Linked DNA regions of Homo sapiens: region 2 is linked to region 1. The links come from fine-mapping of genetic effects on gene expression. Tissue or cell type: whole blood. Region 1 holds a variant in brackets; the other region holds the start of a gene. All regions are shown on one strand. Distances are from middle to middle.

Region 1 (8,187 bases):
CTGAAATCATCACTAGAGAAAACTAAAGTGACTTTAAAATGTAAATAATACTTATTAAATACATGTGAACATAGTATAATTAATCCCTTGTAGGTAAAAGAAAATTCTTTAAAGTTTGATTAAAAAAACGGAAGATTTTTGTTCATCAGATAATCCCCATATGATCTAGATTCATTTATTTACTTAGTTGTTTATTGTTATAGACATTTAGGGATGGAAAATATCTTAAAAACAACCTAAGCTAACTTCTTGGTAGAGGTGAGCTACTGAGGTCTTAAGAGGTTGTTATTTAACCAGGGTCACCAGACTCTCAGCTGCTGCAAGCCACAGACAGAGGTTTTCTCTTAGCAGAGTTGTGCTTTCATCTCACTCTACTTTAGCAGACCAATGATATCTCAAGCTTGCGTGTTTCTTTTAAGACCTCACTGAAGTCTTGCTGACCTAAAAGGAAGAAGCTGAGGCAAAATTAATGCAGGTAGAGTTGATTTGAGCCAAACTTGAGGATTGTAGCCCAGGAGCATAGATTGAAGATGCCCTGAATATACACTCTGATTAGCAGCAGTTACAAGTTGATTTTTAAAGGCAAAAAAGAGATAGGAAGTGGGCTGATACAAAGTGATGTGCCAGGAATTCTTGTTGGCTTACAGAAATAGCATTGATTAGTGATTGGCTATGCATTAAGTTATAGTGTCTGGTGTGGCATTATTAGATTAATTTATAGCTGCTTGTGGCAATAGCAGGCTGGTTCTGGAGATGAATACATAGCTCCAGCGGGAAGTAAGATGTGATTGCAGTCTCATTTTAGTGTCTCTGCAGCCTGATAATTTAAAAGGATGTATATTTCCCAGATAAAAGTTCTTTTCTTTTCTCAGGCTAAAAGAGGTAGAACACTTATTCCAGAATCTTTAAAATTTCCTGAGTTCCCCAATAATGCAGCCTTGATAGGCACACAATCTAATCTTAAGATACAACAGCTATCCATGTTATTTTCATGTGATAAAGACTGCTAAGTTTCCAAGTATCATCCAAACCCAGCTCAGCCAATCCACATTTTTGTGTTGTTGGCATGGAGCAACCTTACTTACGCAAATTCCTGTAATAGTCAGGAAGCTCTTTCCCCTTTCTAGGTCAAGTAACAGAAAACAGATCAGACTACCTTAGGAGAAAAAAAAAAAGGAATATGGAGTTTCTGGTTCACATAAGTAAAAAGTCCCAGATAAGATTTGACATCAGGAATGCCTGGATTTGGGACTCAAATAATGTCATTATGACTCAGTTTGTCTGTATCTAAATCCTTCCTTTCTTTTAGCTTCCTTTTTCAGGCTTTACTTGATAAATGCTGCTAAGTCAGAATCTCTATTATGCAACAGCAGGCAAAGCAAATGCTTGCTATTAGGTCTCACAAGTCCTGAGACTCACAGGGATTGGACCAACTTAGAGCCGGTGCTAGGTTTTGGAGTAGTGGCTGCCACTGGCAGAGGCAGAGACTCAGTGCTTTGATTGGACAGGCCCACATAAAGATGTCCTTCCTGGAGCTAGGATGAGTCCTACCCAGATCTGGTATTACAGAATAAGGAATAGATTGTAGGGAGGCCATTGAAATCTACTGCAGTTTTCTGTAGTATGTCAGGCACTGTACTAGGCACTGGATTTAAAGCTTTTAAAAAGGAGAATGACATGCTTTGAGTCTCAGTGAGTTTTTAGACACTGTACATGTCACTGTAAATATCATAGTTAATTCCATCATTGAATGGATGATTTGACAAGATAACCTTTAAAGAACTTTCCTACTTGAGATTCTATGATTTACGCTTCTTGGAAACAAAATGGAAAAGGTACAAATTCTTTCATTAGTTTAGGTAATTATATTTTCATCTTAAACTGTTTTAGAATTTTTAATATTGTGACAGCTTTATGTAGAATTCAGAAAACTCAATTTAGTGTTTAATACCACAACTCCACTAAAACAGTATCTGAATATAGAAAAATTAATTTATGAATAAAGAGCACTTTAAAAAATGTATAGTTGTCATGCCAGGGACATAATGGTTGGTAAATATGAATTTTCATTTTTGCTGATGCCATTGTGAAGTTGTAATGTATACATGCGTTAAAATATTGAGCCCCTCTTTTTAAGGGACCCTTTGATGTAGATGATTAAAGATTGAAGATTCTTTGGTCTAATCCATACAAACAGCAATGAAATTTTCCCTGATTTGGCTTTTGTTTGAACTGTAGCTGATATACTCCCTGCAGAGTCTCAGTAATAGTTAAAAACATATTTATTTTCCCCCATCTGATAAAATATTGTTATCATTCCATTTTGGTTTTCTTCAAAACCGCCTTTAACTCAGCCAAAATAAAGTCCAGCTGAGTTTTCTTATGGCTTAATGCAGGAGTATGGAAATCCACAGGAAATTTGGATGACTATTATTCCAACATTACAAATGTTCAAGAGAGTTTTAGAAACTGTATTGAAATTAAAAGGAATGCCTGGGAGCAGAACATTTAAAACCACATAAACAAGTACACATCTATGAGAAATTACCTTGCCTTTTATCAACAACTACTAAAAAATAAAAAAGAACACGTAGTAAAATCAAAGCAAAACTTTCTTGGTAAAGTCTGCTACTGGAGAGGGTGCTTGATAACTTAGTTAATTTCATATTAGGAAGTTGGTTGCACCTGTGTGTGCCAGGTGACATATTAAGTATGAAGAAACATTTATGATAGGAAATTCCAGCTCTCCATTTGGGGCAAAGTGTTCAAGCAGTGGGGAATTGTTAGGTCTTGGGGTAGTTATCTCCTCACAAAATACCTTACATTATTCTTTAAATTAGATAAATGTTGAGTGAAGTTTGATTTCTCTCATTGTATGTGTGTAAAGCGACTTTGCTTGAGAAATTAGCCTAAAAGTCTATGTAACATGGTCTGATTCAAGGTTTATATCAATTTATGAAATTTGACATAGATAACTTATAATTAGCCTGCTTCATCTTTCCCGGATTGAAGTTTGTTTCTCATTCATTCATTCATTCATTCATACATGCTCCACCTTTAAGGCATCTTCAGAAAAGTACACGTGTGTCACCTGTGTATAACCAGCCATGCCTTGGTCCAGTCCCAGGATTAAGTCACATTCAAAGAAATAAGTATATCAGAGAAAATAATTGAAAATAAATATTTACTTCACCTTTCAGAAAACATCCAAGGGGGTAATAAATGCCATATATTTGATAAAACTTTAAAATCCTCTTTCTCCATCTCTCTGACCTTTTACATGTCTCTCAGCTACTTCCCCAAACTCTTTCTCCTTTTTGAAACCCTTCCCATATCCAGTCAGTGTATCTCCTCATGTCCTTACCTTTTCCCCTTCTTTCCTTTTAGGTTTATTTTCTTCTATTTCTTCTCTCACTATATTTCTTTTTCCACTTCTCCCCCTAATTCATTTCCCACACCTGTGTTCATAAGCTCAGAACCAGGAAAAGGAAACAAACCCAGAGTTCCCTTAGGAGGCAGCATGAGGAAGGAGGCTGAGATCATCCATATGCTATTATATTTTCTCATCATTGCACTTATTAAAGAAATTACGATATACTATTTAAAAATGGAAAGTCCAGACCAGGGAACATATAAATTGGCATGAAAAATGGGACAGTAAATTGCATGCTGCTCTTAGTTGTATGACTGATGCAGAACTACTTCATGGTCGGTGTTAAAAAGGGACTCCTTCCCATATTTCTTCCTCTTAATGAGTAGAGCACACGCCAGTCCCTTTGATAACAAAGCCCTTC[C/G]TAGTCCTTAACTCTCTAGGGGCTAAGGAAAAACTTCCCCTTCACCCTCTGAAGCTTCACTGAAAAATGAACTCATAAAAGGCAGATTAATAAGAGAGAAGCATACAATTTTTTTTTAACATTCATGAGGAGAACCCAAGTGTTTGGGAGACCATGAAGTGTTTACCCAAGCCTACAATGGGGTGCAGAAGCTTCTATACCATCTTGAGGTCACGGAAAGAATGGGGCTCAGGGCATGGCCAAAAATCAAGATTACAGTGGCAAGATAGATTATGGGGAAGGAAAGAAGAGGAGGAGGCCTGGCTTGTGAAGGTAGTCTTGTTATACAGATGAAACCTGATAGGTGGCAGCCATCAGAGAGGATAGGTGGTAAATGCTTCTTTCAGATCTTTAAAGGTGTCCGACTCTCAGTTAAATCTTTCCTAGATCAGGACAAGGGAAGACCTGGCTGGATTGATGCAAAACTCCCCCATGAAAGACAGCTTTGCAGGGGTACTTCTGTTTGCAAGCCCTCTGAACAGCCATCTCAAAACATGTCAAAGAAGCATATTCTGGAGTGAAATGCTTTTATTTCCTTCACTAGAGGTGTTCTCTGGTTCTCCAACACCAGTTGAGTGTCCAACAATTCCATTCAATTTTGACACTAACTTCTCAGAGTTAGCCTCAGACTCCACAGATTTAAGAGCTCTGTTGTAAGTCCCAGGTCCCCAGACCACCTGTACTTTTGTCCACCTTGACTGCAAATTTGGGGTTTCCCATGACCGCCTCCTCAGGTTTGAGAGTTCACTAGAACTGCGCAGGGGACTCAGGAAAACACTTTTCTTACACTTAACCAGTTTATTATAAAGGATATAACTCAGGAACAGCCCAATGGAAGAGAGGCAGAGGGCAAGGTATGGGGGACTCAGGGGTGGTAGGTTGGGGGATTCAGGGGTGGTGCCAACAAGCTTCCATGCCCTCTCTGGGTGCACCACCTTCGCAGACGCATAGTGTGTTCATCACCCTGGAAACTTTCAGAACTTCGACATTTAAGGGTTTTTCTTGGAGGTTCATTACCTATGCATGATTGATTAAATCATTAGCCCTTGGTGATTTTTGTTTGTTTGTTTGTTTGTTTTTGAGACAGAGTATCACTCTGTCACCCAGGCTAGAGTGCAGTGGAGCAATCTCAGCTCACTGCAACCTCTGCCTCCCGGGTTCAAGCAATTCTCCTGCCTCAGCCTCCCAAGTAGCTGGGACTGCAGGTGCATGCCACCACGCCTGGATAATTTTTGTATTTTTAGTAGAGATGGGGTTTCACCATTTTGGCTAGGCTGGTCTTGAACTCCTGATTCAAGTAATCAGTCCAACCTCAGCCTCACAAAGTGCTGGGATTACAAGAGTCAGCCACTGCGCGAGGCCTAGGCCTTAGTGATTTAACTCTATCTGCTGTCCCCTCCCCTCTTGAGAAGTGGACTGTCGGGTGGGGCTGAAAGTTCCAACCTTTTAATCCTGGCTGGATCTTTCTGGTGGCTAGACCCCATCTAGAAGCTCTCGAGGCACCTCCCTCCCTCCGCAGCTTTGAGTCATCTCATGAGAATACAAAAGACGCTCTTTATCACTCACGAGATTCCAGTGTTTTAGGAAGTCTGTGCCAGGAACCTGGGGACAAAGACCAAATACAGTAATGTTCCACATAAGCCACTGGCCTCATTTATGATGGTGGTTCCATAAGATTATGATGGGGCTAACAAATTCTATCATCCAGTAACATTGTCACCGTCATAGTGCAACACATTACTCAGTGATGCTGGTGTAAACAAACCCACTGTACTGCCAGCTGTGGAAAAGCATAGTACATACAATTATTTACGGTACATAATACTTGATAATGATGATAAATGACTGTGTTACTGGTTTATGTATTTACTACACTAGTTATTATTATTTTAGAGTGTTTTCTGATTATTAAAAAAAAAAAGCTAAACAGAACAGCCTCAGGCAGGTCTTTCAGGAGGTGTTCCAGAAAAAGGCATTGTTATCATAGGAGAGGATACTTCCCTGTGTGTTATTGCCCCTGAGAACTTCCAGTGGGACAGGATGTGGAGGTGGAAGACAATGACGTTGATGTTCCTGACCCTGTGTAGACCCTCTGTGTTTATGTCTTAGCTTTTGACAAGTTTAAAAAGTAAAACAAAAAAGTTAAAAATTTTAGAAATAGAAAAAAGCTTATAGAATAAGCATATAAAGAAAATATTTTTGTATGCTATACAATGTGTTTATATTTTTAGCTAAATATCAAAAAGTTATTTAAAAACTGATAAAGTAAAAAAGTTATAGTAAGCTAAGGTAGTTTATTATTGAATGAGGGAAAAAATTATATAAATTTAGTGCAGCCTAAGTATACAGTGTTTAGAAAGTCTGCAGTAGAGCACAGTAAGCACATTTACTCACCACTCACTCTCTGACTCCCCAAGAGCAGCAACCATACATGGTAAGGACCCTATACAGGTATATCATTTTTTCTTTTCTTTTTGAGACAGGGTCTTGCTCTGTTGCCCCAGATGGAGTGCAGTGGCATGATCATAGCTCACTGTAGCCTCAAACCTCCCAGGCTCAGGTGGTCCTCCCACCACAGCCTTCTGAGTAGCTGGAACTACTCAGGATGCCACCATGCCTGGCTAAATAAAAAAAAAAGAAAATTGTAGAGACAGGGTCTTTCTAGGCTGGTCTTGAAACTCCTGGGCTCAAGCAGTTCTTCTGCTTTGGCCTCCCAAAGTGCTGGGATTACAGGCTTGAGTCATCGTGCCTGGACACCATTTTTTAATACCATATTTTTATTTTACCTTTTATGGTTTTTTTTGTTTGGTTGGTTTTTTTTTTTTTTTTTTTTTTTTTTTTTTTTTTTTTTTTTTGAGACAGAGTCTCAATCTGTCACCCAGGCTGGAGTGCAGTGGCATGAACTTGGCTCACTGCAACCTCTGCCACCCAGGTTCAAATGATTCTCCTGCCTGAGCCTCCCGAGTAGCTGGGATTACAGGCACCTGCCACTGTGCCCAGCTAATTTTTGTAGTTTTAGTAGAGACAGGATTTCACTTTGTTGGCCAGGCTGGTCTTGAACTCCTGACCTAGAGATCCACTGCCTCGGCTTCCCAAAGTGCTGGGATTACAGGTGTGAGCCACCGCGCCTGGCCTACCTTTTATGTTTTTACACCTGTTTAGATACACAAATACTTACTGGTTACAACTGCCTACAGGATTCAGTACAGTAACATGCTGTACAGTTTTGTAGCCTAGTAGCAATGGGTTCTACCATATAGCCTAGGTGTGTCATAGGCTATTCTATGTGGGTTTGTAGTAAGTATATTCTATAATGTTTGTATAATGACAAAATCACCTAATGACACGTTTCTCAGAATGTATCCCTGTCGTTTAGCAAGGCATGATTATATTTATTTATTTTTTGTTATACCACAACCTGTGGTTGGTTAAAATCAAACTGGTAACTTGAGAGGTGGCCATTGTTGGATTTTTTTTTAAGAGCGTGATCAAGACCGTCTTGTGATTGGATGGTCATTGTCATGGAAATGCACCCTCAGAAAGATGAAAGCAAGGCCAAGATTTTTCTTCAAAATCTATTTTGGGTTTGCCTTTACATGTGAATGAATTATCCAGACTCAGAGTTCTGCACTAACTTTAGAAGGAAAAAAATTTAGAGTAGGTACTACCAGTCTACCACCCCAGAAATTCTGTTTTTGAGCAACATCACTTCCCAAGCAGTAGCCAGCATGTAGCAATTGGAAAAAATACCTCTAAGATGTTGAATGGACATGTTGGATGTAAACCAACTAAATTGAGAGCATCTGCCAAAATAAGTTTTAAAATTTCATACCTGATATTAGATTATTCTTTCTGAAAGTACCTGTAATGACAGAATGATTTATGAGGTCACTTCTAGTTTATGACAATGAAAGTATATTATCATAAAAGGGTACGTATGTCTAAAATTATTCAAAAGCAATGTCAGATTAATATAAGAGTTTATTTTTTAAAGTTGAGAGGAGAGAGAAGTTAAGCTAGAACATATTCTAATTTTATGCTACTTATAAGTGTTTTCTGTCATCAGGCCATTTCTGCTGATCATAAACTATGTTTCCCTTACGAGGCTTTCAGTAGAGTATTAGTTTATATACTAAACTGATTCGTTTCAGGATTCTGTATTTTAGCCCTTATTTCCCTCAATATTTCTACAGTTTAAGTAGTTAACGGGAAAGTCAGTTAAAATTGGATGACAGAGTCGCTGGCATCATTGAGTTTGTGCTTGCTTGAGATTTTTCAAGATAGTATGCTTTGTGTTTGACTAAAATGTCTTCAAGAAAACAACATTTTGCTGTTCTTCCAGAATTATGTCACT
Region 2 (8,187 bases), 47 kb before region 1:
TGTCTGTAGTCCCAGCACTTTGGCAGACTGAGGCAGATGGATTGCTTGAGCCTAGGAGTTTGGGACCAGCCTGGGCAACATGGCGAAACTCCATCTCTACAAAAAATACAAAAATTAGCCGGGTGTGGTGGTACATGACTGTAGTCCCAGCTACTTGGGAGGCTGAGGTGGGAAGATCAATGGAGCTGGGAGTTGGAGGTTGCACTCTAGCCTGGGTGACCTAATGAGACCCTGTCTGGAAGAAAAAAAAAAAAAAACAGAAAAGAAAATACAGTAGAGCTCTAGATCAACCAGAGACTCAGGAGCCTTTCATTTGGGCAATGTTACAGCAATATTTGCCAATATTTTTAGAATTCTAGTTTCATGAGACATTACTAGTGTTGTATTCAAAAACAGAAATACTAATCATGCTTCTTCATTACAAGAATTGTCTTTAGATAGATAGGTAAGAAAAATACCGAACACATTTGCAGGATTGCCACTGTTTGGCAATGTTTCTCTAAGCCCGCCTACCTTAGCCCTCTAGAAAATCACTTGGGAGAAATCCTGTTGCCTGAACCCAGAGATCCAGCTGCCTCCCACAGGCTCAGCGAAACAAACAAATGGCGGAGTGAAGTGATCCCTCTCTTCTTCCTTTAAGAGAGGAAGGGATCTCTGCTTCTCTTATCTACTCCAAAGTCTCATCATACAAAGGTTGTTTATTCCTGCAAAAGTTAAATGACAAATCCACCTAAATTATCCTCCAATGGCCCATACCCTTCAACAGAGAAAGGCCAGTTTTCATATTTAAAGGTGGCCCTCACAGCCATAAAATCAGTGTGGTATTATATTTTTTCATTAATTCAGCATTTACCAAGTAACTTCCGCAGCCAAGAACAGTGAAAAGTGTTAGGGATACCATTTTTAAAAACTTTATCATAATAAAGTATATTATTCTAGTAATACCTTTGATTGATGGCCACATTCTAGACTTTAAGAACCACTTGGGATTATCTCCTTTAATTCCTATATCCACCCTATAAAGTTGGTACTGTTACCATTCTTTATGGATAAAGCATATCCTTTACGGATAAAGCAACTGAGGTTAAGTAGTTTACCCAAGGTCAGCACGTGGTGGAGCTGTAGTCTGAAGCCAGAGCCTGAATTCTTAAAGATTACCATGTTCTTAAGAAGTACACTTTCTACTGAGGTTTGATCTGTAGTATACTAAGATTTCCCAAATTATTTCATGTATTATATCTTATCTCCCAATTAAAATTTGACCTTCTATTTAGGGCAGCACTGTTCAAAAGGATTTTCTGCAATAATGAAAATGTTCTAGTTTGTGCTATCCAAAAGCACAGTCTAGCCATAATTTAAATTTAAACGGCTACAAGTAGCTAAGGCATACAGTACTGGACAACACATGCAAGGAAGAGTTTCATTTCTTCCGATTTATCTATAAAGCCAAGGCTTAGGTAAATCAGTTAATGGAAAGGAACAAGTGAAGAATCTTTAGGAGGAGTTTGTACTCCCTTAGCTGGGGAGCAGAAATCTTTATTATATCAGGACTTTCAGTATAATAAAAATGTTATAAGAAGCATATGATACAGCATGCAGTCCTAGAGGAGTTCATAAAGATGGATTCTTACATTCCTTGCAATATCTTTGGAAGACCTTTTTTTTTTTTTTGAGATGGAGTTTCGCTCTGTCACCAGGCTGGAGTGCAGTGGTGCAATCTCCGCTCGCTGCAACCTCTGCATCCCGGTTTCTAGTGAATCTCCTGCCTCAGCCTCCCAAGTAGCTGGGACTACAGGACCCACCACACCCAGCTAATTTTTTTTTTTTTTTTTGTATTTTTAGTAGAGATGCGGTTTCACCATGTTGGCCAGGATGGTCTCGATCTCTTGACCTCGTGATCCGCCCGCCTCGGCCTCCCAAAGTGCTGGGATTACAAGCGTGAGCCACTGCGCCTGGCCAGAAGACTGACGTTTTATAATTGATGGTCACAACTTTAAAAATTCATACTCAGTTATAGGTTTTTGTCTAATAAAAACATCACTGCTTAATTTATTTACAAAACATGGAGTCCATAGAGAGAAAAACAACAGGGGCCTCTTGATAGTAAAAGGATGAGAAACAGGGAAAACTTGTAAGTCAATGGACACTTCCTTCAGAAACTACATTCAAAACTTAAAAATTTTGTTAAAGAGTAAGCAACTGCCAAATTCTCCTAAGTGACTTCAACGTGTTACTTATACATCAGATATGTACATACATATTCCTATAATCAAGTAATTCTAAGTTTGGGAAAATATCATAAATAATAATAGTTATCTTTTGAAAATAAAGTGGGGCTCTAGATCAACCAGTGTCAGGAAGCAGCCAAGTCACACCCCACTGGGTGCTTCCTGGACAAGCGCAGTGCAGCTCCCACAGGGCCTCACACCCAACCTTCAATTTGCTTAAAAGAACTATCTCAAAAAATCTTAGCTATTTAGTCACAATTTGTCCTTGCCAGGGAACATGTTTTTCTTTTGCCTGATTTTCAATAACCTTAGATTGCAAAATCATAAAAGCACTCATCAAAGAACTGTGAGAGCAGCTCAGCTTCCCTGGAGATCTCAAACCATGTTCCTTTGATACAATGCAATCAGCTCTTTATACTTTAGGAACCTAATTTTCCCTTACTAAATGCTAAACAATTTACAAATAACACAATGGCTACAGAAAAAAAAAATCCAACATCTTTACATTCAAATCCCAAAGATATAAACCTGACGTCTAAATTAATACGTGCTTAGTGCAAAACTGGGCAATTATTCCACATTTGCAAGACAGTATAACATGACCACCTGCTGCTGAAATGCCAAAGCCACCACTGTTAACGCTTTGCTCCGCCTTCCAGAGAGGTTATTACAGCTTAAGCTGCGTCAACAACCCAGAGGAGGCTGCTATCTAGTTTATCTGTGTGGAAGGCCTGTAACACACTGTTAACAGAGTAGTTGCAGGCCCTTCCTTGGGATATTTTTCTGCGTATAAGAGTGAATGAACTCCACGGCCAGATCCTCCTAGTCATGTTGCAGTGCTGGTCATGGGACCGCAGAGGGAACAGCACCCAACTGGGGATGGGGAGCTCACAGGCACAGGCCCCGCAGCTGATGCAAACCTTCCCCCTCCAAGGTTCTCTCGAGTCTCTGCCAAGAGTCGGCTGGAGGGCCCAACTGCTATGTTCTTATTGCTGTAATGACTGCAATTTGGCAGCATCCAGGATGGTGTACCGGGAACGGGAGGGGGAAGGAGATGGTGGGCCCCTCTGTTAAACGCAACGCCAGAAGGGACACAGGATGAATTTATTGTGGCCATCGGTCCTGAGCTGGAAGGAAAGTCAAAGGGCTTTAAAGCTGGGGAAAAGCTCTAACTCCTGCTCTGCTGTCAAAGCCTTACTTCCCACGAAGAGTAGGGGCCAGGCGGGCCAACTGTAAGGGGGAAGCGGCCCGGGGTGAGGTAAGAGGACCCTCCTAGGTGCCGCTGCCAGGCGGCGGTTCGCTGGGGCAGCAAGGCGCCCGCACTCGGGAGGCGCCACAAAGGGCCGAGGCCTGCGGAGGCCGCACGCGCAGCTCTCCGGGGCGGAGCCGCCGGGATCGCGGCAGCGGAGGCTGCAGCAGCCGCGGGTAGCCGGGGTGCCCAGCCTCCCAGCTCGGAGGTCGCGGGGGGCGGGGAGGATGCCGCAACTGCAGTCCGAGCGGCAGAGCCCGGCGCGAGCTCCCAGGCCCCCGCAACCGCTGTGAGGCGCAGCGCGCGCCACTGGCCGGGAGGAGCTAGAGGCGGGCGTCTGCACAGCGTCGCGCCACCCGTGACTGCCCGCCTTCAGCCGGGCCCGGGACCCCGTAGCGGCCCATGCCCTGACGGGGGGCGCAGCTGCGGGGCTGGCGAGGCGTCGCGCGTGGGAAGAGGCCTAAGACACCCCGACTGCGGCGGCTGCGCACACCCGATCCGGACGCGGGGCCCCGCGGGCGCGCGCCTCGGAGCTCCCGCCTCCTCCTCTTGCTCCTCCTCGGCGTACGGTCCTCCCCTGACCCCTCCTTCCACCCGCCGAGAGGATGCGCTCCCCGGCGCCCAGCAGCAGAGGCCACCGCTCCCAGAAATGCATGCGACCGATCCCCTTCTCCCGGACCCCAGGAGCCGGCGCCCCCGCCCTGTAGGTAGGTGGTGAGGCGGGGCCCAGCCCTCGCCGCCGCCCGCCGCTGATGCTGCCGCCGAGAGGCCGCGAGCAGGGTCCAGGACCGGCCAAACTTGCCTCCCGCCGGGGGCTCGGTGGAGCGCTCGGAGGTGTGCTAATGGCGCTGGGCGTAGCCCCCTGTGAACCTGAAAACCTCTGCTTGAGCTCGGGAGGCCGAGCGGGGGCGAAGGAGAGATTGACCCTTCCCCGCCCACCCCTTGGGGGGCTCGTGGGGGTGCGCGCCAGTACGAGAGTGGGGAGGACAGGTTGGCATGGGGCTTATTTGGGGAGAAGACCGTTGGATTTTCAGCAGCTCAGGTGGAAATATGTCACTGTGTTTTTCCGGCTGGATTAGCAGATGCGTTCTTCCCATCTTTCTAGCCAAAACATGTAGACAGGCAAAGGGTTATTAGTGGCATGTAGAAGTCGCTGTGGATTTTTGTGTATTTCAGAGCTAGCTAGTTGGTATATAAAATCGATGGGGCAAACCCTTACCGTCAACACGTTAGGGCCAATTTAGAGAAGGTCCTTCTAGAAGTCAGATTATTCTGGAGATCGATGAGGCTGGGATATTGTTGTGCTGAGTATTTAGGAGCCTCTGCTTACGTGAAGGGATGTGTTTTAAGAGTGGCAACTTTGATACAGGTGTCGGGAGTTGAGATTCTGCTGGAAAGATGTACCGGGTCAGCCAGCAGAGGCAGCCTTGTGCCCAGCCTAACTTCCAACTCGATGTTATGCTCTGTATTTCTCAGAAACTGGTTATGTATTAATGCTTTTTTTCTCCTCTAGGTGTAAAGTTTATACATCAGAGCTTTTGGCAAGATTCCCTCTTCCCAGACTATCATTTTTTATTTTATATTCAGCAATAAGGCTTAAAGTTTTGAAAAATGCATCACTGTAAGCTCCAATTTTATAGTCACTTAGGTATAGAGATTTGGAGAAGTGACTCAGTATAAGCTCAAATAGGACAGAATCTTGAATCTGTTTTTTTTTAAATCCTGTAATCTTCTGCATCTTATGCAGAATAAGTACCCATTAGTTATTTGTTGAATGAATGAACTGTGTTTCAAGCTTTCATCTAAAAACCACAATTTAGAATCACAGAATTGTTCTGTAGCCGGTGAAATTTAATTGAATTTCAAAAATTGCCTCTTTGTATAAATAGGCAAACTCAGTTATTTTAACATTTATATTTCAATTCTGACATCTTTAGGACCATATGCTATCTTTCTGTAATATGTCATCAAGGTTATGAGGTAATTCTCCCCAACTCTTAAGTTCATTTCATGTCTAAGCTTGCAAAATTTCCAGTCTCACTGGTAATCATGCCAACTTCAACTGTGCTCTCAAACACAATTTAAAAAGTAAAAGTCGTGTTTTAAAGAAAATTGTAAGTTACGCCAGAGGAAACAATGATTTGGTTAATAAGTGATGTATTCACTTATTTTAGAGTTGAGTTTTTCAGGTTTGATCTAATTATCATGTCTTTTATCACAGGCAAAAGTAGAAATAAAACATGTAGAAGTGTCTGTGATTCTTAAATGATTCAAAATGTGTGATATAGATACACAATTTAAACTGTTTTCTCCTCGGTATAGAAACACATCAGTTTCCAAATTTGACAGCCAGGGGATTGTGAAATGAGGGTTTGCAAGATACAGTGTCTTCCTGCTTTAAAATGTTATATCATTTTGAAAAAAAAAAAGAAAAACAAGGTTAACTGCATCAAACTTTATTTGCTTTATTTTTACACTATGACATTTTCTGTTTTGATTTCATCTTTTTTCCATCACATGAATTTCATGAGTCAGTGTGAACTTCTTTCAGTCTCTGCTTAACAATATTATCTGGGCATGCTCCCAGGTTTTCTTTCTGACATTTTAATGCATCTTTACCATCTTCACTTCATATTACTCAAATGACTTATTTTTACACAATATGGTAGGCCATACTTTATTACTATTGCTTCTCCAACCTACTTATTTTCTTCCTAGATGGATAAGGAAATAAAACTTTCCTATAAAAGTTAATAAGACTGCAGGAACCAACAGTGGGAGGGAACTTATGAAAAAAATTAATTTGTTATGATTTATTAAAACAAAGCCAAAATTCCCTCCTGTAATAAAGATAATTACATTTTACACTTCTTAAATTTGTAACCCAGGGTATTGAGCAATTAATTTACCTGGCTCTTCCTTGCACACTTTAAGCTTTTCAAAAAAGCCCTCCCCTTTGGTTACAGTAAGCTCTCTTTACCTTGTTACTTATAAGCACTTATTTGTTCATTTTACAAGTAGGAGTTGAGCCTTTAACTGCTCAGTTTAACTGCTATTACTTTGGCTTTGGAATCACAGTCAAATAAAAGCTCTAATCTCAGATTTGAAGAGGTATTTTTCTCTTCTGTGTGTCCTACAACCAAATGCGCAGTGCCTCTGGGATTGGTTGACTCACTTTTGGGTCCTACCTCCTGATCCCCCAGCACTCCGCCCCCACAAGCACCACCAGAATGCAATCCAAGACCTGGATTTCCTCTCTTTATCTTCCTAAAGGCTGTATTTTAGAAACCTCTATTCCTTTCTTGCTAAATGCCATTTACTATTGTTTTTAAAATCCCAGCCCATAATTTTTTGTTTGTTTAAATTCAACAGGATCCACTCAATTCACTTGTGCTAAAATCAGAATTGTTGATTGCAGAAAAAAATATACAGAAGTAAATTTGTATGACCTTGAATTTCAGATATAGTGAATACATAAAGAGTGATTGTTGTCTACTGGTCTCCCCTCAACAGTGATACAAAATGCATTTGTTTCTGTACATGCCAGAGAATATGAATTTTCTGTTGCTAAATTTGATCAGAAGCTTAATTGAGAGAAATGATGTTTACGGGGGGTTGGCTGAACAAAGGCCATGACGTCAACCTATTCCCTTCCAATACTAGCTGTTAGACCAGAAGTCTAGCCAGATCTTCAGAAGCTGTACTTTGGTACCTTGTTTTGCATCCTTAACACCCCCCCATATGCCCACACTGAGGGATTTTATTAATACAGTCAGAGGAAACTTACTATTATGTTACTTTCGAAATGTGGTTATGATCATGGTACTTTCTATAGTTTCTGTTTGAAGACTCATGCAAGAAATTCCATTTAACTTTAAATGCCAAAGAAAAGCTTTACTTACCCTGAACAACTTGTGTGTGTGTGTTTGTGTGTGTTCTTTTCATCATGCAAAATGAGAATCAAATCATTGATTATATTTCCCTTTCTAACTTGGCAACTAGGAAATGAACAAATTTGCAACTCAATTTTAATAATCATATAAAAATTCATAACCTAATATCAATATTTTATCTTTTCCTATGGTCTTGAGCTTCTGTTCTACCTTGTTTTTCTTGATTCTGATGTTTATCTAATTATACTTTTCCATTTGATTGAATTATATTCTTTTAAGATGACTCATATCCTTTGTGGAACAAGGCAGATTATAAAACATAAAACCAAATAAATGAAGCCATTGCACAATTGATCTCTGGACACAGTATGTTTTTGATGAACAAGTTTAATGGGTTACATTAAATGTTTTGAACAAGAATTGCAAATTTAGTACATTTGAACTTAGCCAAATGGAAAACAATGTTACATAGTTTTACAAAACTTTTTTTTAAACTCTTACATTTATATTCACTCATTACTAATTTGAAATTAATAAAGCCATTCAATTTAAGTCAATTATATTTGGAGTACCTGCCTTAAACGCTATATAGGTTGAACAGGAGTTTCAATAGAATAAAGTCATTTTTAGCTGAAGGGCTAGCCTAACTTAGCATAACACTCACCAGAGTGAATCGACAATCTGACCTTCGCGTCAGTGATTCATGTGATTTATCCTTGTTTTAATAAATCAGAGTCTTCTCTGAGCCTCTTTTATTTACCATGAAATTTAAAAGATTGAGCTCCTGGAGTTAATTCTTCATACTGATGTTTTGACA

What was found. PIP is the estimated chance that this variant, and not a neighbour inherited with it, causes the effect.
Region 2: it holds the start of NCOA7, and the variant in region 1 is fine-mapped to the expression of NCOA7 in whole blood (INTERVAL, PIP 0.92).

The regions. Positions count from the first base shown.
Region 1 is chr6:125,834,223-125,842,409 of GRCh38, forward strand. All of the region lies in intron 2 of NCOA7 (nuclear receptor coactivator 7), which reads left to right. Among named protein-coding and RNA genes, the nearest start is that of NCOA7-AS1, 19 kb to the left of the region's middle. The variant C/G (reference allele first, on the strand shown) is at 3,795.
Region 2 is chr6:125,786,884-125,795,070 of GRCh38, forward strand. It overlaps NCOA7 (nuclear receptor coactivator 7), which reads left to right and starts at 4,077. Exons shown (of 16, transcript NM_181782.5): 1 at 4,077-4,184. RefSeq lists silencers at 2,810-2,909, 3,500-4,339 and enhancers at 3,363-3,863, 3,864-4,364, 4,560-4,659.